Regions from separate parts of the Homo sapiens genome. Here region 1 is linked to region 2. The links come from fine-mapping of genetic effects on gene expression. Tissue or cell type: sun-exposed skin. Region 2 holds a variant in brackets; the other region holds the start of a gene. All regions are shown on one strand. Distances are from middle to middle.

What was found. PIP is the estimated chance that this variant, and not a neighbour inherited with it, causes the effect.
Region 1: it holds the start of ATP13A4, and the variant in region 2 is fine-mapped to the expression of ATP13A4 in sun-exposed skin (GTEx, PIP above 0.99). The same link has a PIP of 0.9 or more in unexposed skin.

Annotation. Positions count from the first base shown.
Region 1 is chr3:193,549,106-193,560,161 of GRCh38, forward strand. ATP13A4 (ATPase 13A4) reads right to left here and starts at 5,790. Exons shown (of 30, transcript NM_032279.4): 1 at 5,635-5,790. The coding sequence starts at 5,694. It overlaps ATP13A4-AS1 (ATP13A4 antisense RNA 1), which reads left to right and starts at 4,108. Exons shown (of 2, transcript NR_121666.1): 1 at 4,108-4,182; 2 at 5,665-6,479.
Region 2 is chr3:193,499,303-193,510,358 of GRCh38, forward strand. ATP13A4 (ATPase 13A4) reads right to left here. Exons shown (of 30, transcript NM_032279.4): 3 at 3,191-3,337. Among named protein-coding and RNA genes, the nearest start is that of ATP13A4-AS1, 48 kb to the right of the region's middle. The variant C/T (reference allele first, on the strand shown) is at 4,288.

The DNA.
Region 1 (11,056 bases), 50 kb after region 2:
TATTCTCAAAAAAGACTGCTAATCCGAGTATACATTGGTACAACTATAACTTCTGAAGGGTAATTTGGCATGATGTGTTAATCCAAATTTAAAATGCATGTCCCCTTTGAGGCAGTAATAATAATTCTAGGCCTTTACCTTAAGGAAATAATCTGAAAAATAAATAAATATCTAAGTACAAAGTTGTTCATCACAGCAAAAAAAAAAAATTAGAAATAATAGCTGTGCAACACAGGAAACCTGCTAATACAGCACAATTCATCCAAACACAACTTGAACATTGAAATGGTTATGTGACACTATAATTATCAAATATATATATATATATAGAGAGAGAGAGAGAGAGAGAGAGATCCATAAAGCATTTGTAAGTATAATGGAAAGTCTAATTTTTTTTAAAGTAGAGATAGAATCACTCCATTTTTGTTAAAAAATACATATTGGCCAGGTGTGGATGCTCACGCTTATAATTCCAGCACTCTGGGAGGCCAAGGCAGGTGGATCTCTTGGGTCCAGGAGTTTCAGACCAGCCTGGGCAACATGGTGAAACCCTCTCTCTACATAAAATACTGGAAAATTAGCCAGGCATGGTGGCATGCGCCCGTGGTCCCAGCTACTCAGGAGGCTGATGTGGGAGGATCACCTGTGCCTGGGAGGTTGAGGGTGCGGTGAGCTATGATCACACCATTGCACTCCAACCCAGACAGAGACCCTTTCTCCAAAAAAAACTAACATGAAAAAGATACATATTTCTAAGTATATGTATATTTTTTAAGAATAGAATTTTTAAATCAATGGAATAATCTTGTTTTGCCATGATGCAAACAAACGGATGATATCCAAAAACAATATTCATGTTGTTTTTCAACATGTAGCGGGGAAAAGGGAAATTATGAGGCAACAATATGTTCAGTGATGTGCTGGTAAGTATTTAACAAATGGCCTTCAGGCGGGGCAGGGTGGAAGTCCCGTTGTAGTATCCACAGATTTCTGTGGCATAAATAGCACCAACATTATTTATTTCAAGCTACCAATGTGATGTCACTGAATTAGGAGTTCGGAAGAAATACAATTGCACCATGCTGTGTAATACCACTACCTAGTATTTCCATGATACAGATAAATTAGGTGCAAATAATCTCAAAAGCACAGATAAGTATGAAGATAGAGCAAAATAGTTAGAAAGTGGTGAATTTTAGGTTTTTTTTTTTTTTTTTTTGAGACGGAGTCTCACTCTATCCCCCAGGCTGGAGTGCACTGATATGATCTCAGCTCACTGCAGCCTCAACCTCCTGGACCAAAGCGAGCTTCCCACCTGAGCCTCTCAAGTAGCTGGGACTACAGGTGGATACCACCACATCCAGATAATTTTTTTGTATTTTTATAGACAGGGTTTCACTATGTTGCCCAGGCTGGTCTGGAACTCCTGGGCTCAAGCAATCTGCACGCCTCAGCCTCCCAAAGTGCCGGGATTACAGGCTTGAGCCATGGCGCGCAGCCTGCATTTTTTATTGACATGTCTGGTGGTAAACTCATGAAGCATATTTACTTCATTCTTTAGATCCTTATTTGCCATTTCAATATTTTTACAATAAACATATGTTACCTTTATAATCAGAAAAGAATTCAAAGGTTTTTTTATTTTTTGTCTTATTTGTTAAGGCCTAGAGAAAAATATCAGGGAACGTTACTTTTTAAAAGTCTCACTGGAACAAAACACTTCCCCAAAAGATTGATTGTGTTAAGGTGTAACTAAAGAGCAATGTTAGAATCAATTAAGCCATGATACCTTCGTTCAGCCATGGTATAAGGAAATGGTTCTAAATTCCTTCAAAATAGAAATACAAAACGTCAGGACTCAAAGAGATTTGTGCTCCCAGACATTCTCATACTCTCACTTTACAAATAAGGAAGCTAAAAAAGGTAGGTGTTTTCCCAACGTATGCACAAGGTAAGTAGAAGATAACCCAGCTCCTCTCCATTTATAAGTGGTCTCTACGGCCTATGAATAAAAGTACATATTCCTGGCCAGGTGCGGTGGCTCATGCCCATAATCCCAGCACTTTGGGAGGCTGAGGCAGGTGGATCACAAGGTCAAGAGATTAAGACCATCCTGGCCAACACGGTGAAACACCATCTCTTCTAAAAATACAAAAAATTAGCCAGGCATGGTGGCATGCAGCTGTAGTCCCAGGTACTCGGGAGGCTGAAGCAGGAGAAACACTTGAACCCAGGAGGCAGAGGTTGCAGTGAGCCGAGATCACGCCACTGCACTCCAGCCTGGCAACAGAGCAAGACTCCGTGTAACAAAAAGAAAAAAAAAAAGTACATATTCCTTTTGGTATAACTGAATGGCAAGAGATGACCTCATTTTTGTGGGATAGTATTTACTCAATTGGTTAATTGCTAAGCCCTTGGCTTTTCCTACCTTTATTTAGATGATAGCAGCTCACACCTCGCCAGAACTGTTTACTTCTCAAAACATGTTTATATGGATTATCTCCACTGATCTTCATGAGAACTCTGTGAGTCTGGTGGGGGTAAGAAGGACCAGTCCTATTTTACAGGTATAAAAACTGAGGCTAGAGCAGGCAAGCGGCTGGCCCAAGGCCGGTGAGAGCCAGGCCTCCCGTCCCGTCCCAGTGCTCTCCCAGAGTTTCCTCCTCGAAGCCTTTCTGAGGCAGTCATTTAGGTGAACCTTCGCTGAAGGCCACTTTCTCACCTTTCCTTCCTTCTCCCTCCAAAAGCTTCTTTCTACCTTTGGGTCCTGTCTCATTTCGCAGTTAAAGATATTATTTTCAGGTCACCTAGGGTTGCTCTTTAGTTCCTGTTTGCTTTTGGTTTGTTACTTGTTTATTTATTTATTTTTATCTATTTACTTATTTTTGAGACAGAGTCTTGCTCTGTTGCCAGGCTGGAGTGCCATGGCGCGATCTTGGCTCACTGCAACCTCTGCCTCCCAGGTTCACGCCATACTCCTGCCTCAGCCTCCCAAGTAGCTGGGACTACAGGTGCACGCCACCCTGCCTAGCTAATTTTTGTGTTTTTAGTAGAGATGGGGTTTCACCATGTTGGCCAGGATGGTCTCAATCTCTTGACTTGGTGATCCGCCCGCCTCGGCCTCCCAAAGTGCTGGGATTACAGGCACGAGCCACCATGCCCAGCCTGTTTTTGGTTTTTTAACTCCAAAATGGAAGATAATCCCAGGCATCTTTAGGCCTCAGAATATTCTTCTTTATTTGACATGAGGTCTAAACCCTAGCATGTTGTTTTCTCTTGAAATTTGAAGTAATTTCTACCACAAGAGAAATTACGTTTGCAAAGGTTCAAGTAAAGTATATTATAAAGCATGAAACTAAACACTTTGGTGTGACACATTTCTGGACTTGGAAGTCAGAGAAGACAGACTTATTTAAGCTACTCGAATTATCTAGAAGAAAAAAGAAACTCAAATTATCTATAACAGAACAGATGCTGGGGAATCTAAGAAGACTGGATGTTGATGTTCTCCTTAGCTTTGTTTTATGAAGGAAGGGAATGTGTTCTGTTAAGAGTGGAATGTTCTCCGGAAGAACTGGAAAAGGTATCAGTGGGCTATGTTCAGGTCCAGAGACAAAAGAGCTGTCAACTTAAACTAACCTGTGCGGTGCCTCAGCTCCTGGACTTACTGGTTGATGCAACCTTAGGGAAAGCCTGTGTGCATCAATTTCCTCATCTTTAAAGTTAGAATCACAGCATCTACCTCATAGGGTTGTGAGGAAAACTAAATTAGCTAGTGGCCAAGAAAATGCTGTGTATACTAAAAATCACTACAAAATATGTAGACTATATATATAGCTTGATAATTTTTAAAGTTTACTGCTCTGGGCAAGGGATGGAGGAGTGAGTTAAAAAGGAACACAGTGTCAGACACAGCAACAGGCAGGTGGCCAGGTTTCTGTAGGCAGAAGAGGATGGAGAGCTCAGGAGTGCATACTAATTGCTGCACCTCTGCTGAGACTACTGGCCAAATGGCTGCCTACCAGAAAACACAGTGTCCCTTTCCATATTAAAGGGCCTCTCCTAACTGGGCTTTCAGCTGCATACAAAACTACGTGGAGTTCTCCATGCATCTGATGGTGCCATTATGAAGATGAACTGTTAACTAAATTGCTTTGGTGGAATATGTATGCTAGGGAAGAGGTAACAGTTTCCCTACAACCATGAATGTCTTCTGGAAAATAAATGATTCTTATTGAGACTTGAAAGACAAATTGTCTGAGAGCAGAAAGGGGTTTACTGGAAAAGAGTGAGTGTATTTCTAAATGAGAGAGAAAAAAAATGTTTCAGAGGAAGGAGCCCCTGCCTTCTGGTGAAGAGTATTCAAGATGAAGATAAACTTTTCAACTTAATATCGAGAGTAATGAGATATTCACTTCCTAAAGAAAACTCTTTAAAGAAACAAAGATGATATCCAATGTGGGCTAGCAAGCCATTTCTGGTGACATTTGTGGAGGGGCTGAAGGCAATTCATTTGGCAGTCAAATCTGAATGAAGTAAAGGATATGGTTAAGAAAGGCACCTGAATTAATGTACATTTTACTTCTTTATAATTTTTTCAGCTTTGATAGCAGAAGGGATCTACTCTTGAAAGTCCAAAAAATGTTGTTGCTATAGGAACAGGTAAGCAGATTAGACTTGAAAGACCAGTTTAGGAACAAAGAATGTAATAGTCAGGGCTAAAGCAATTAACCAAGAAAACATTTTAAGTAAATATCTTTCAGGTTTGTTATTTACATATTAATTCCAGGAAGATTAAATGCTATTATGGAATGAGAGCGTCACATTTTAACATTTTAATTACATCATTACTGGCATAAAAGACTATGCTTACACAATTAGCAGAAAGATCTTATTAAACAGAAGTACATATTTCTAACTCTCTCTTGATTATATTGTAATTGAGAAATACAGTTTTAAATTCATCCTGAGCATGAAAGTCATCTTTGATTTTCCTATAGTTCTCAAGATAGAAGCACATCTAAAATCAAAGAGATACTGAACTACCGAAAGTTTTCTGTAACCAATCTCTATAATGAGGAAGCCACAAAAGTAAAATTCTAGAAGAAAACAGAAATGTGTGTAGGCTGATAATTGTTAATATTGCATGTCTTCCCTGTCCAACAGACTCGGTGAACAAGACATTTGAGAAGAGAAGGTCAAAGACCCAGCTGCACTTCTGCTTCACTGCTGAACTTCTGCTTCTTCCTATCAGGGAATACACTGCTCCTCACATTAGGGATTTCCTAAAATTGTTAGGTGTTTTGAACAGAACTGGCTATACCAATGAGGCTCAAACAAGAATCATAAAGTGCATGGTGCTTCTCTCCCTCTCTGTTTTCTTTAAAAAGAAAACATTCTTGACAAGATGAATACAATATTTTCATTCTAGCAAATTTCTGCTGTCAGAGGTTATATTTACAGGATAGAGAGATTTCTCAAACATGACCTTTTCTCGTGTAATACCAGAGTGAAATTTTAGAAAAGTCTGTGTGTGTGTGATGCGTGCGTGTGTGTGTGTGTGTGTGTGTGTGTGTGTGTGTCTCGCAGGCTGAGAAGTGGGATGGGAAGAAGGGAATGTGGCTAGAATCTTACCATCTCATTCTCTTCTCCTTCATTGAGCAGAGCGTGCTGGCCCTTCTCAAAGTGTCCCATGAAAAAGTTATTCCACACCTCCTCCCTGACCTTGTCGTGCAGACGCTTCCAGGATGAACTCCAACTCGCCGAGCCACCGCAGCTCCTCAGCTGACTAAAAGAGTTAATGATCCTCCAGGTTAAAACTCCTCCTTGAGCACACACCTTCTCTCAACAAATGACAATACTTGGCAAACTGAACTCCTCCCACGAGTCGCCCTCTGCTAGGAGGAATTGCTGGCTGCTCCCTGCTTATTGCATTCTCTCAGAGCAGCTGTCTCAAAGGAGGCTGCTCCCATGCCGATCTTTTTGTGCCCAACTTACAGGGAAAGAACTCATTGCCTGCCCAGTGCCTGCCAGCCTCAGACTTCTGACTGCAAATCCAACAGGACAATACAGAGTTGGCAGGACCCTTCTCAGGAGTGAGGAGCGGGTGCAAGAACTCCCAGGTCACTGCTTTATTCAGAGGACCTAAGGAATTGGGTTGAGCGGAAGCGCACAGAGCTGCAGATTTTCTTTGATGAATGAAAGCTTCAATCCACAGGTTTCTAATAGTACTCTCATTCATTTTGCTTACAAAAGGTACAGATTATCACTAATCCTCTTCAAAAGGTATTTGTAATCACATTTCCTTGTATATGCAAAAAAAATTCTATTTAAAGTGTATGTGAAATTAAGTTTACTTTTTTGAAACACATGTAGAAAAAGAACAAAGGTATCATCAAACTAGTCTATGTAGTCTCCTTTCACTAAAATATTGATGGTTCAACACTTAAGGAAGTCTAGAAATAAAATATTCAAATGACTATATGGCCAGACTCTTTTTTAATTTGTTTACACATTTATTCAATAAACAGTGCCTGAGCACAGGGACTACCTAAAAAAGTTAAGTCATATTTGCTACCCTCGTGTTGATGTAAGGATTCAAACATCCAAACAAATATGATAGAAAGTGGATTGTTATTATAAGAGATGGAACAGAAGTCTAAGAAAACTGTCAGAAGTCCCAATGTGGTGTAGAGAAACACACCCCTACCCTAGCTCTGGCAAAATACCTGTATTCCAGCTGCTTGTCTGCACTGGCCTTGCTGTGTGATCATTTAACTATAGGAACCGGCTCTTCTCATCTGGTACCGCCCGACAGGACTTTTGAGAGAATGGAATGAGATCATTGTGAAAGTACATTGTACAGCACTGATCAAGTGCTGTTAGGATTATTAAACTAAATGTGCATTTGAACAGTAGGTGTTAGGACATAGTGGCTAAGGGCATATACACTAAATTTGGAAGGCCTGAGTTCAAATTTGGACTGTACTAGGTGGTCGTTGTGCTACCTTGGGATATAACAAGTTATACAAACTCCATTCTCCTCTATTTCCTCACATGTAACATAAAGATGATGATAATAGAACCTACGTCCTAAAACAGACTTTTAAGAAAGAGTGCCTGGGAAATAATAGGTGTTCCACAAAAGATAGTTATTTTTACCTTCACCATGTCCACTGTCTGTCCCTCAAGCTACATTGGCAATGATATCTCCAACCTGACCCAAATAACCCTAATGTGACCAAGATCAATGTGTGCATGTGTGTGTGTGTATATGTTGTATGTGTAAAACCTTGAGCAAATAGTGAAGTATAGGATAAACATAAAAAGTAAGCTAAGTAAACCCATTGTAATAGTAATTACAAAATATATATGTACGTGTGTGTGTATGTGTGTGTGTGTGTGTATATATATATGTAGTTCTCTTGGTTTCAAAAATTTGCTAGCACAATTTAACCAAATAAATGAAAATAAAATTAACATTTTATCACAAGGTCAAAATATAAGGAGTAAAGGGTTTATGGGGGGGGTAATAAAAATGTTCTAGAACTACTGATGGCTTCAAAAATTTGTGAACATACTAAACCTCACTGAACTCTATACTTTAAAAGGGTGAATTTTATGAAATGTGAATTATATCTCAATGAAGAGATATAACAAATTTAAAAATCATACCTCAATAAAAAATTATACCTCAAAAAAACCTAACTGAACATTTAACAGCCTTACTAGGCAGTAATTATATATTTAGTACAGAAAAAAATATAAAACAAGCATATTCCAAATTTCATCTCAACTGATGGAGGTTGAGGAGTGTTAGTATGTGACGTGGTGAAACTATATCAGTGCTCCTGGGCAGGTGAGAAAGAAGTAATTCATTCTCCTGTTTATCACTGGCAATATTTGCAGTTTCCTTTTGGCTGGGTTCCTGAATGCACTTGGCAACTCTTGCACCGTTGTGGGATTGAGATGAGTGTGTAACTGATTAACAGCTAGAGGAGAAACTGTACACAAACTTACCCCATCAAATAAATCAGGTCATGCTGCTACAATATTTAAGCTAAACTTGAACAGGAAAATATGTAAGTCCTTAAGAACATTAAAAGCTTTTATAAAAATCAGATGTCCATGGAAAATTATTTTCCACAAACCTGGTTCAATAGAGCTGAGGACTCCAGTAGTGAGAGAGTTTCCTCAGGTTCCTTGGGAGTTCTATTGGTAAAACATCTAGATTTTATCGATGGCAACACTGCTTATGGACAGCACTCACCCTCATTTAGTGATTTTGGTCTACAAACATAACCATAACCAGAAACAGGGCTAGGTTGTGTGGGAAAGCAAAGAGAACATTTACAGAACACTTCCACATATGAGGCACAATTCTAAACAGTTTACACTCACTGTTGCACACAATCCTGACAAAAGCCTCTGTGGTTGATACTATTCTGGTCATTCTTATTTGACAGACAAGGAAACACAGGTGCAGACATTAAGTAATTTGCCTACATTCAAACCATTAGTAAGTGACAGAATGAGTATTCGGACCTAGGCAATGCAGCTCTCCCAATCCGTGATCCTAGTTACTGGACTAATACCTCTTCTACACATTTATTTGGCACATCCAAAGTGCTCTGCAAAGAGGTTTGCATTTATATGACCAGAAAAGCCTCTTTGTGAAGGAAGCATTTTGAGAAAGGCCTTGGAAAGAGCCAAAAATGCTTCAACAGGTGGAGATGCTGAGGCTCGGACAAAGAGTAAGGCCGCAGGAAAGAGCATTTGAAGCAAGGGAATCATCAGAGGAAGAAACACATGGTCATGTTCAGAGCAAGCCCATCAGCCTCACTGCAGCATGGGCTGCATGAAGGAAGAAGAGGGGAGTGACATGTGGCAGGGAAATATGGACCAACGCCATGCATGGAGGTCCTGAATGCCAGGTCTGAGTCTGAGCTTAGTGCACAGAGTGACAATAACATGGAAGGCAAACTGAACTCCATAAATATCCCTACTGTTCCTGATCAGCCTGTGCTCTCATATTATAGGAATCAGGTCCAAAGCGACTCAGTCCTTCTATGCAATACTGTATTTATGTAGACAGTTTTCTTGAACCTTCTAAGTTAAGTCTTCTATTTCTCTTAGGAACATTGTTTGAAAAGTTATTCTTGAATTCACCCTCCCTTTCCTTAATTGTGCCTGTTCAATATTTCTATTCTATACTCTACGTGCCTCACGGGTTGTGATGTGGCGTAGTAAGAATGGCAGATGAGGATTTGGTGTGGTCTGAATTCTAATCTTGACATTTTCCTGAAGGATTCCATTCACTCATTCACTTAGCACTAGTTTGATTAACTTCAGTATGCCCAGATCTGTAATAGATGAAGAATAGAGATTTAATAAATTATGCCCCAGAAAAGTTAAGTCCATTAAGAAACAAGACCAACACCAAAATATAAATTCCACATAATATGCTAATTACACAAGAGTGACAGAGGAACTTCAAGTAGGGAGTTAGGCCAGGAAACCCTCACAAGGATAGGAGTTTTATGCTTGTCTAGATAAATACAGGTGGGAAAGGAAAGCATTATTAACAAAGGAGACAGAGAGCAAAAGCACAGATGAGGGCTCGCACACAGCCCATTCTGGGGGCTACAAATTATACACATATATTGATATCTCAGAATTGAGAGGAATGTCCAAAAGGAAAAGTACCTTCGTTCATTCTCTGATTCTCTCCCTGAACTCATTTTTTCTCAAATACTCTCTCCCAAATAAGAATGGGAACGGAAAATAAAAAGGACAAATACTTAGCTACCTCTGCTGATCTGGCATCTCGGTTTGCTTTTGATTATCTTAGGAGCATGCCTGTTGTTCTGAGCAGTTCTCAACCTCTGTGATTGTCTAGAATAGATGTCCAATGGAAATAATGGCAGGACCGGTTTCTCTGCCAGGGCCGTGGGGATGCTGATGCTTCACTTGTCTGGCCCATTTAGGTTTTGTGATGATAAATGGTAATAATGTTTCATTATATGTTAATTTCCATCTTTCATCTGAGAACTCACAGCATATTACAAATATTGTTTTTTGCAACATCTCTGTGAAGTAGGGAGGTGAGTAGTATCATTGCTCCCATTTGAAAGCTGTAGGAACTGAGTCATAAAGAGGTCACAAAGAGCTGTTCAAGGTCATGTGTCTTTACCATGGAGAGGAACCTGAAACAAGTGCAATATCTCTGCCTTGTCATCACTGGCAATAAGCTGACTCAGTCTTCCTCCTCAGCCCTCATTACACAAATCTGCTATTTGTAAAGTACTTGAGACCTTTAGTTATAGAACTTTATCTAAACTCAAGGCTTTACCTTTAGTATTAATTATCCTAATCTGCTCTAAAATAGTCTGTGGTAGCAAGCAAAGATGCCATATCCCAAAGAGGAATTACCTGCCTCAAGGTGGTGGTGCAAAGTCTAATTGAATTAATTAATGTTTGTAAAACATTTAGCAACCCTTAGATTAAAGGGTCTAATACAAAGATCCAGGGACTCCCCATTAATTACAGAAGAAAAGAGCAGGCTGATGCTGTCTCTGCTTCTCAGAGGACTTGCTCTCAAATATCCCCGTTCAGCACCAGGTCTGTTCTCCCAGTGCCTTGGGGTGGCCTGTTGTTTCCCTTTCAGAAGAGTCCTCTTTGCTTTCTGTTATTTCCAAAAATAGGAAATTAAAAGCTGCTCTCTGGAGGTAAGGCAGCTCCCCTTCTGTGAAGCTTACCTCAGTTGACAGCTGTTATAACAATTCCAGGTCATTAAGGACAACCTATAAAAACAAAATCCAAAAGAGATGGTCCCCAGGCAGAAGCTTCATGTCAGTGTACTTAATTTTGAGAACTTTTAACCTAAAAATTTGAATATACAAAACAATACAAGTTATGGTGCTATTATTAACAATCAGAGACTATTAGACTGGGCCTTAGAAATTACTAAGTTACTTTCATTGTTTCTTCGGTGAGAAAAAAGTTACTGGATGACTGTGTAACGATTTGTCCAAGATCACAATCTGCGAAAGCTAAA
Region 2 (11,056 bases):
ATGACAGGCTCTAGGGTGTGTTAGCCATCATGACACATGTTGAAATCTCAAGCATCTTGCCTCACAATTTACTTTTCTCTTCAGTATTCTTTGCAATTTTGCAAATAGAGCAGGATTGTAATCACAGCTACTATTTTTTGGGCATGTTAGGACTTTTCACACGTTATGTTTAGTCTTTTCCATCATCCTGTGGTAGGGCAGATATTATTTTCCTCTTCACTTTGCGCCTGAAGTTCATTTTGCTTAAGTAACTTCCCAGGAATTTGAACTCCAGCCCATCTGGCTCCAGAGTTCAATCTCTCAAAGGATATCATATTCAAGCTAGTCCCAAAGGAAAATCTGAAAATCCATTGACTTCAGGATTCAAGCTGTATAAAGTGATGGCTATCTACTTATTAATTATATAAATGCAAAAATCTGTGTTAGAAATATTTTAAAGGACAAATTGTGGTTCCAATGTGAGGCCCCTGATCAGTTCGAGAACCTCTTATCAAGAGGCAGAAACCACACACTGAGGTTGAAAAATGTATAAAACATAATAGACATGAAACATCTGTAGATGAACGCAGCAATAATGAGAAATAAAGAGGCTACTGATAAGTTTTACCTCAGGCCAGAAAATAGAAAATTCCATTATCTTCTGACAATTTCTTAAGCCATTTCTCACAGAGTGAGAAGAATGGCTCCATCCTAGACCTTTTGAGCATATTTGAGATTCCCGCAGGAGAAAACATCTCTGCCAGGAGTTTATCTGCTTCCCCCATCACTCTCAGAGCCTCTGGAAGCTGGTAAGAGGATGTTAAGTACAATATTTGCAAGAGATGAGGTTTATTTGCCTATTTCCTGGAAATTCAGACCAGGAAACAGCAATTAGGAAACCAAGTATCTGCTGCGGGGTGAATTTCATCTTTCTGCTCAGGAATAAGGAAGATTTCCTCTCCCCGGGCTTTCTGCTTGTAATTTCTTGTTAGAACATGTTATAAGAGCATCCTGTTTAACAAGTTAAGCACTGGGTGTTAGCTTTGCCTGTAATCCTGCAAGATGGTCCTTAGCATCTCCTCTTAGCCTGTTTCCAAACCTGACATAGTTCTTTGCTGTAGTCTTCAGACTTCCTTTAAACCAGCGATCTCCAACCTTTTTTGGCACCAAGGACCGGTTTTGTGGAAGAGAATTTTTTCACGAATCTTGGGGATGCGGTGATGGTTTCGGATCATCAGGCAATCATTAGATTCTCATAAGGAGCACCGTAACCTAGATCCCTCACATGCGCAGTTCACAATATTAAGGATTTCACTCCTATGAGAATCTCATGCTGCTGCTGACCTGACAGGAGGCAGAACTCAGGAGGTAATGCTCGCCGGCTTGCCAGCAGCTCACCTCCTGCTGTGTGGCCTGGTTCCTAACAGGCCATGGACAGGGCACCAATCGGTGGCCTGGGGATTGGGGACCCCTCCTTTAAATGCCCCTAAATGGTTACCCTCTTGGTAATGCTGTTATTGTCATCAAGGCTGAGCCCATGACAGCTCCTCTGACTTTAAGGAAAGTTTTGTTACTAGCATAGCTCATTGAAGTTCACAAATGACCTTAATATCCATCGTCTCATTGTGTGTTCATAACAGCCCTGAGAAAGGCAAAGAAGGGGTATTACTTTTATTTTATAAATAAGAAACTCAAGACCAGAGAGGCAGTAACTAACCAAACTGCCTATGCCGTAGCTGGTAAATGAAGATAGTACACCTATCACAACTTTCCATTTCAAGACCTCTGCCCCTCCTACAATTCTGTGTGTTGACTTGGCCATTTCTTCATTTATCTGTCCACTTATTTATTTGATGCTACTAAAGATGCTAGAATTTCAGAGCAATAAAACTATGAGAACATAGGCTATCTGGGAAGCTTATTTCTCCAGGTGAATGGACATCTAACAGATTAGGGAAACTATTATTTGGAGGTACTTGACCTCCTTTGTTTTTGTTTATTTGGGCAGCTAAGACAGCTGAGTGGGTGGGGTGCAGTGGCACACCCCTATAATCCCAGCACTTTGGGAGGCTGAGGTTGGTGGATCACCTGAGGTCAGGAGTTCAAGACCAGCCTGGCCAACATGGTGAAATTCCGTCTCTACTGAAAACACAAAAATTAGCTGGGTGTGGTAGCAGGTGCCTGTATTCCCAGCTACTTTGGAGGCTGAGGCAGGAGAATTGCTTGAACCCGGGAGGTGGAGGTTGCAGTGAGCCAAGACAGCGCCATTGCACTCCACCCTGGGCAACAAGAGTGAAACTCCATTTAAAAAAAAAAAAAAAAAGACAACTGGGTGATAACAATTGACAATAGGAAAATTGCTCATAATTTACTTTATTACTTTAAATAACTGAACTTGAGCTCATAAAACTAATTTAAACAGCTGACCACACATACATAAATGTAAGACAAAACATTCTGTCTTATAAAATGTTTTTAATATGAATGTTAACTAGTCATAATCCAAGCAGAACTAATTTAATAGGGTGAAGAGGGAGCAACCCAAATACATTTGAATGACAAGAATTCAAATAAGGTCATTTTTGTAGGCATAAGCAAACCTCCTGGGATATTCCTGGGTGATTACTTTTACTATAAGATTAACCCTGTTACATAGATTGTAATATGGGGAACGATACTATTAGAGCTAATATGTAAGAGCTGGGCTGGGCGGTACATGCCTGCAATCCCAGCTACTAGGGAGGCTGAGGCAGGAGGATCACTTGAGCCCAGGAGTTTGAGGCTGTAGTGTATTATAATCATGCACCTGTGAATAGCCACTGCACTCCAGCCTGGGCAACATAGTGAGATCCTACCTCTAACAAAAGGAAAAGAAAATAGAGCGAGTATGTATTGAGCATCTGCTATATACCTGGAACTACTTTAATCTTTGTATTTCTAAATTTATTGAATTTTATCAATTAATATTAGAAATAGACATTATTATCATCATTTTGTAGATGAGAAAACAGGCTCAGCAGAGTTAAGATCAATGGTTGCGCTATTTAGAAGGAGCAAGCTGAGATTTGGACTGTCTGGCTCCAAAGTTCACATTTTAAATATACACTATCAAATGAGGATTGGCACAGTAGAGGAGCTACATTTAACTATATACTTGAGGGGAAAAAGATTAAATCTCTCTGACATCAGCAGTAGCCATAAGTTTACTTACCTTTAGGTCTGGCTTTCTTATGGCTCTATTTATGATATACTCCTCATCTGTCATGAGAGGGTGGTCAGGAGTGAGACCAAATGCGCTGTTTAATGCTGACAGGTAGATCCATATTACCTTTTTCCAAGAGTAAATTTGGAATTCATCCTGAGGAGATAGACATCAAAACCCCCAAGAAGTTAAGAGAGGTCAGCAGGCTACAATTCAACCTGAGAAACATCATTTTAATATAATTCTGTAAGTGTTTGGCGTTAGTGAATATTCTAGACAGAACGGTTTGTCTCTGAAAGATGATGGATCTAGAACCTTGAGGGAAAAAGACCTGTCATCACTGACTGAGGAATCTGGATATGAAGATGAGGCACTGACACATAACAAAGCTTGAGAATCAGGAGGCTCATTCGCAGGTAAGAACTAGTTCACTGCATCACCTTTCAACCACCTTTCAGCCCATGACCTGATGACCATCCCCATCTTTCAAGGCTTAACTCAAATTCCACCTCCTACAGAACAGCCTCATTAACACCCTTCCACCGGGGCGGGGCAGGGGGGGGAACTATCACTTTGTTAACTCCAAAAAAATGTTAAGTGTCCCTCTCTTGTGCTCTTAATCACTTTTTCTAGTCCTTCTAGACTACCTGGAATGCAGGGATCACGTTTTATTGTTCCTTATCTCCCATTCATGTGGAGCACTGAGACCTGCTCAGTCAGAGTCTGAAGAATGGAAGAAAAAAACTGAATCCATGGACTGAACCTGCCCAAGGTAATTGCCAAGATGTTAGCACAGGTGGGGTTGAAGAAGGCACCTTATTGCATGACCCTAATTAAAATTGCTTCCATTTGCAGTTCACTGATTACTTCACACAGAGTAAAATTAGAGGGAGAAGCACAGGATTGAGAAACAGATACCACAATGGTCCCTTAGAGACCTATTTGACAGTGGTTATTGTCTGAATAGGGAAATACTAAACATAAAACCCACTCAGATGACTGACAAACCTCAGGATTCAAGAAGTATAACAGAAAAAGTCAAACGTGGGAAAAATTTGATGCTTGGGAAATGTAGGTCAGAGCTGGAAATTGTCTCCACCACCACA[C/T]CCATTTTTGCTATGAAGAGTGCCCTAGCTGACTCTGCAAAAGGCAGAGAGGGGAAGATACAATCATTGTAGCTAATCTCTTATATTCATCCTCCTAAGAGAAGACCGTCTGTATGCCTTTGCTCCTGCTGCTTCCTTAGCCTGTAGTACACATTCTTCTCTCTTCTCCTTAAGTCTTTACATGGCTGGATTCTACCATCCTTCAGGGTCCAGCTCAGAGTTTATGTCCTGAGAACCTCCCTAATTACTCTGGGTGATCTCTCCTCTAAATCATCAGGATACTCAAGATTCCTACCACATTTTACCCTTTGCCTATCCACCTTACCACTTCTCTTGGACTATGGGTAGGAATTGTGTATGATGCATGTCTGCACTTCAGCCAGGCTTAGCACAGGTTCTGTGTGCATGTGTGTGTGTGTGTGTGTGTGTGTGAGAGAGAGAGAGAGAGAGAGAAAGAGAGATGAAGAAGGGAAGGAAGCCAACAAGAGGGGAAAATAACCTTAATAGAAATTGGAATATTAATTAATTAATCAATTTTAAAAGCCAATGTAATTGGCTGTTACACTGTGGATTTAAAAAAAAAGGTGACTAAATCAATTCAAATCAAATTGTATGGAGTTAAGAATGATGAGCCTAAGAATGGTGGAAGGGAGCTAAATTTTCAATGACTAAGTCACCGATCTGATGATAGACATGGTCTAGGTATGGTAGAGTAGGCAACCAACTCTCTTGAACAAACCTTGACACAGTTCAGCATTATATAGCTTTGCTTTTGACTTTATCAAAGCAGTTTTTAAGTAAGAACTTTCCATTTCTAATAACAGTTAATATTTATTTCACACTTATTATGTTCTAAGCACATAATGCTACATATGTATTATTTCATTTAATGTCAAAAACACTATGGAATTGTTACAGTTAATTATTCTCCCATTTAGTTGGCAAGGAAAGAAAGACATACTTGGTAACTATTAGAGCAGGCACTTAACAGTCACCTCCCCACTCCTGCTTGCCTCCTCCAGAGTCCCCTCTAACCTTCCACTTTATTCTACATTTTGCTAAAAAATATAATTTGATTGGACTGCCATTTTTATGTCGAGCCTGAACTGGAACTTCTAAAAAACATAGTTTCAATGAAAAATTTGGTAAGAAAATGTATAATTTGTAGGTAAATAGGAACACAAATTATAAAAGAGCCATCAAGACCAGAGACCTCTTGCCACCAAGTAGGGACAATTAGGAAGACAGCAACTATTAATCGTCTCCAGTGAATTAAAATAATATTAACAACTTTCATATGTTTACCTAGCAGTTTCATAATTTTCATATGATTACATAGCAGTTTGTAGAAATTTTGTTATGTTATCTTATTTTAGGCTTACAATTCTCCAGTGTTGGTATTATAATTATCTCCATTTTGCAGATGAGAAAACTAACCACCAGCAAGGCTAAGAATTGCTCAAGCCAGTCTGAAACTGGTAGTAGGAATAAAACTGAGACCTGAGTCCAGATCTTTCCATTCCAAATCTTGGTCCCTTCCTCTTTATTTCAACAAGTTGTCCCATGGTGTCTATGGCTTGCATGTAAAAATCACCTTGAATTCTGTACCAACTGACAAATAGTATCCAGTTTCTCACAATCTCTGCTCTCCTGACAGCATAGAATCTAATTCCTGAAATCAAGCTGTCACCCTCTGGCCCTGTGTGACAGCAGACAGACCTCCAGACTGTAATGCCTAAAGAGGGAAAAGCAAAGTGTCCAGGTTCTCAAAGGCCATATTAATCCAGTGCACCAACTAACTGTATGCCTTAGTCTAGGTGTGTATTAAAAACTGACATTCATCTATACACCTATCTCTTCTTATAGCTCATAATATTATCAAATCAAAGGTACTTGGATATATTTGCCTTTAAGCTCATTTCCTAACATCCCCATTTACTCCCAATCCCAATACTCATAATTCTGTATGATACAAAGTAGAATAAAATAATTCTACTAATTATGTATCATACATAATTCTGTATGATACAAAGTAGAAAAAATAAAAGATAGGACAGCTAGATGACCCTTTTGCTTAGAGTAGGGGAGTGACACTGACTTCTCTCTTGTATACTACCCTGTTGAGGACTCTGTCAAATCACCCAGCTTTTTAAGGAAAAAAAGCAAAGAAATGGAAGGAAAGTACACCAGTGTGAAGTGGTCACTTCAGGCAAAATCATTGACTTCTCAGTTTTCATTTTGGGGTTGTCCAATATGGCAAGAGCACAGGCTTGAGGCCTGAACTCAAATCCCAGCTCTAAACTGTCTTACAACTGTCTGAAGCTAATTTTCTTTATTTAGAAAATGGAAGTAATACCAAATTTCATGGATGTTTGAAGGATTAAATGAAGTATACATAATGTGTCTGATCTAAGGTTTGGCCCATAGCAGGGAGGCAACAAATGGTATGGCTCTGTGCCTCATTTTTCATAGCATGTTGTTTCTGAGTTCTTTCTGTAAGTAGGAACTTATTCTCCCTTTGAGGAAACTCTAAAAGTCTCTCAATTTTTCCTTTTTGGAAAAGCAGCATCTTTGCCTGTAAATGGCTTCTTCTACTTTAGTCTGTTTCCCAGCTCTCTTCAAAGCAGGTAATGATTTGTAAAATACTTAAATGTACCAGAGGAGCTACCATTTTAAATAATTGGTTTATAATGCAAATAATGCAAAGTGCTTGCCTGGCAAATCTGGACTTTTTACACCTCAGGTCTCATTGAGAAGGCTTTACCTCCTCTTTATCAAAAATATTAACCGGATCAGTCCTTGAACTCTAAAAAAATAGGTTTTACAAAAATTCAAGAGTGCATTTCAAAAGTCGAATGTATACAAAGGACCAGTGTTTGACCTGGACTGAAAAACAGAGGGAGAAACCTGGACATTTTTTATTTCCTGTGGTTTTGTACTTTCTGACCCTGGAAATGCCAGATAAACTTTTAGACTTGAATGAAGCAAGCTATCTCGTGATATGGTTTGGCGGTGTCCCCATCCAAATCTCCTCTTGAATTGTAGTTCCCATAATCCCCTCATGTCATGGGAGGGACCCAGTGGGGGGTAATTTAATCATGGGGGCAGTTACACTCATGCTGTTCTCATGATAGTGAGTAAGTTATCACGAGCTCTGATGGCTTTATAAGGGGCTTTCACCCTTTTGCTTGGCACTTCTCCTCGCTGCCAGCATGTGAAGAAGGATGTGTTTGCTTCCCCTTCCACCATGATTGTAAGTTTCCTGAGGCCTCCCCAGACATGCTGAACTGTGAGTCAATTAAACCTCTTTCCTTTATAAATTACCCAGTTTTGGGTATGTCTTTATTAGCAGCGTGAGAACAGACTAACACATCTTGCTTAACCTAATTCTATCCTTTTACAATAAGAACCTCATCCCTTGAAATTTAAAAGCAATATAATGGTTGCTTCAAGTTCAGGCCAATGCTGTGACCTCTCTTGTATAGTTCACTACACAAAAAAATGTAGTTCTGGCTTGCCTTAAAAAGAACCCATTTCAAAGTTCCAATGAGACATTAGAAAGTGAGTAATTTTCTCCTGGAGATGGATACATTGCAATGCTAAAAGGCTGAACTCTAGCTCATGTGAAATACCTAGAGGATTATGGATAATGTAATAATAAATTTCTCAGGCTATTCTAAAATGCTGCACTGCCTTTATAGACCCATAACTTTGGTAAAATTCTTTTATTTTTACAGCTATCATTTTTTTTCTTTCTCTTTCCCTCTCCTGGCCAGACTCATTGATGCTCTTAACATCCCGACCTCATATTCCCAATGTCTTTTAGTTGGAAAAAAGTTGACATTGGCTAGAATATAGGATTTAGTTATAATATACATAAAGTTCTAAGTTTTGGAGAAATTCTCACAATAATTATTATCTCAGTATATGTTGTCCAAAAAAAAAGAGGAGGGAGGGACAACACAATGAGGTTATTAACAAAGCAAAGGCTATGTTTATGTTTGTGTACAAAACAAGGAAATCTAGCAAACTCAGCATACATTTTTTTGGAGGGATGGGATTTGGGGCTTGCTCATTTTTGTAGCTGTTTTCTGAGGGGAAATGGAGCAGTGGATTAGCGGGTCATCGTCTGAAACTTCTGGAGATATAGTGTGTAGTAAAAAGTTGACTAATGCCCATGGAATGCCTGCATGCCAAGCAGTCTTTATTTCAGAACTTTACACATATCACATCCTTAGTTCTCACAAGGAGATAGGTATTATCATCAGCCCCGGTTAACAGAAAAAAAATGGAGGCAAAAAGAGGTTAAATAACCTGCCTGTTATGAATTGAGTTGTGTCCCCTCAAAATTCTCATGTTGAACCCCTCACCTCCAACATATTTGGAGATAAAGCCTTTAAGAAGGTAATTAATGTTGAATGAGGCCATAAGGGTACACACTAATCCAAAAGGACTAATGTCCATATGAGATGAAGAGACACCAGGTGTGCAAGAGCACAGAGAAAAGACCCCATGAAGACACAGTGAGAAGACAGCCTTCTTCAAGCCAGGAAGAGAGGCCTCACCAGAAACCAACTCTCCTGGCCCTAGATCTTGGACTTTCGGCTCCCAGAACTATGAAACAATAAATTTCTGTTATTTCAGCAAAACCTGGTGTGTGGTATTTTGCTATAGAAGCCTAGCAGGCAAATACACTGCCCAAGGTCAAGAGCAGTGCTGGGAATCAAATCCAGGTACTCAGAACCTAGAGTTTATTCTTAAACCACTTCACAATGCTGCCTCTGTAGAATCTGGTCACTGGACAGAGAATAATTAGATCTCTAGTTCCAACTCTAGTTCAACTCTCATCTTCCGGCTATGGGACCCTGAGAATTTTGTTTAATTTCTCTATGCCTCCATCTGTAAAACTGGAGAAAAAAATCTCTACTGGTAAGGACCAAATGAGACAACTATATGTAAATTGTTAAATCGTAATATAAATGGCCCTGTATTATAAAGGATAATAGTCTCAAAACGATTTATCTTAACATTGAGTCATTTCTCAGAGGCCAGCTCACAGAATCTCAGAGATTTGTGGTGAGATGTCTAATGAAAGACCAGGTTGAAATGGGACTGAGTTGGGGAGTGGGTAGGAAAGCAGGATTCAGAAGTGGGAATGTGTACCTGAAAGAAACATAATGCTATATTCTCTTTCTCAACTGTGACATTCCACTTTAGTATCCTTGAGATAAAATTCTGGTAGAAACAGTGAGACTATTTATTATAGATTCAACTTAATTCAACGTATTAAATTAAATTAAATAACTAAGTCCTGCTGTGGCCATGTGCTAGGTGCCAGGGGGAATGAAATGTATACCACAATCACTGTCTTCAAAAAGCTTATAATCTAGACTGTCCAGGAAAAAAAAAAAAAGCTGAGAAGTTCCAGGAATAGAAAGCTTATAATTTTAAAGGATCAAAAGCTACAAAAAGGAATCCAGCACAGTGAGAAAAAAAAGATTCGGGACTTAGAGAAAGTCTTAGGTTTAAGTTCTTTGCCCCCATATTCCCTCCACCTGCATCACTCTCCATGTGCCTGCCCCCAGCAGCCACCATCACCTTTTAACTCTTATCCTTTGGTGCTCAGAAAGCCTTCCCTGACTGTTTTGACTTGGCCAAATCTCTATTATGTAATCCTACCATAACCTGGAGCCTTTCCTAAGGAGTACTTTTAAGAGGTGGATTTTTACATTTATTTGTGTACCGATCTGATTAACTCCATGAGGTCAAGAACCCTGGTTTTATTAATCACACACACTTACACACTTGCCCATGAGCCAGCACTGTTGGCTGGCATACAATGTGTGCTCCTCAAATGTATAAAAAAGAGAGAGATATAAGGAAGGAAAGCCTGGCTTTGATATTTACTGGGTTGTAAAGTCACTTGGTCTCTTTGTATCCTCATCTGTAAAATGGAGATGATAATGCCCATTTTCCAGGGTTGTTATGAGAATTAAATAATCAATGACATACTGCTTTATAAACTGTAAAGTGAATAGTATTTTAATACACGGTAAAAAGCACTACAGCGGTCACAAATGAAAACACAGAGCTAATGCAGGACAGGCAATTAACTCCCTCCCTTCTGAACTGGCGCAAAGAATGAATCAACAAAGACTTAACAGAGAAGGTGATATGTGGCTGAGGAATGAGGAGAATTTAATAAGTAGAGACAACACCTACTTTCTACATTTACTTGAGAAAGAGAAAGCATGTGTGTGTGTTGACTCCTCACTAGAAAATCACTCTGTAAGGACAAGGATTTCCATCTGTTTTGCTCATAGTTATATTCCCAGTGCCTATGCCAATGTCTGGTACATGGTTGGTGTGTGGTAAATACTAACTCACTGAAAACATAAGTGAATGAATGCATGCATGAATGGAGGGGAGAAGGAATTATCAGAAGAAACTTTATGGGTAAAAGCAGGCACAAAACAGTGTCTTGTTCCAGTAGAAAGTGGTCCTGGTGTGGGAAACGTGGGCTGTGAGAGACCAAGTTGCAGAGGAGGAGCGGGGAGGAGAGGAGGTAAGCGACCCAGTGAACACAGATGCTGCCGCCTGACGAGAATACTGGTACACTGGCAGACTTTAAGATGACATTCGCGTGGCTGATTGGCAGAGTTTCTAAGTTTTTGAACTAACGCTCCTAGCCCTGACATCTTTAATTGAAACTGAAGCGAAAATACTCCCCATTAAAACATCAAACGGAAGTGCCTTGAGTCAGGCCGCA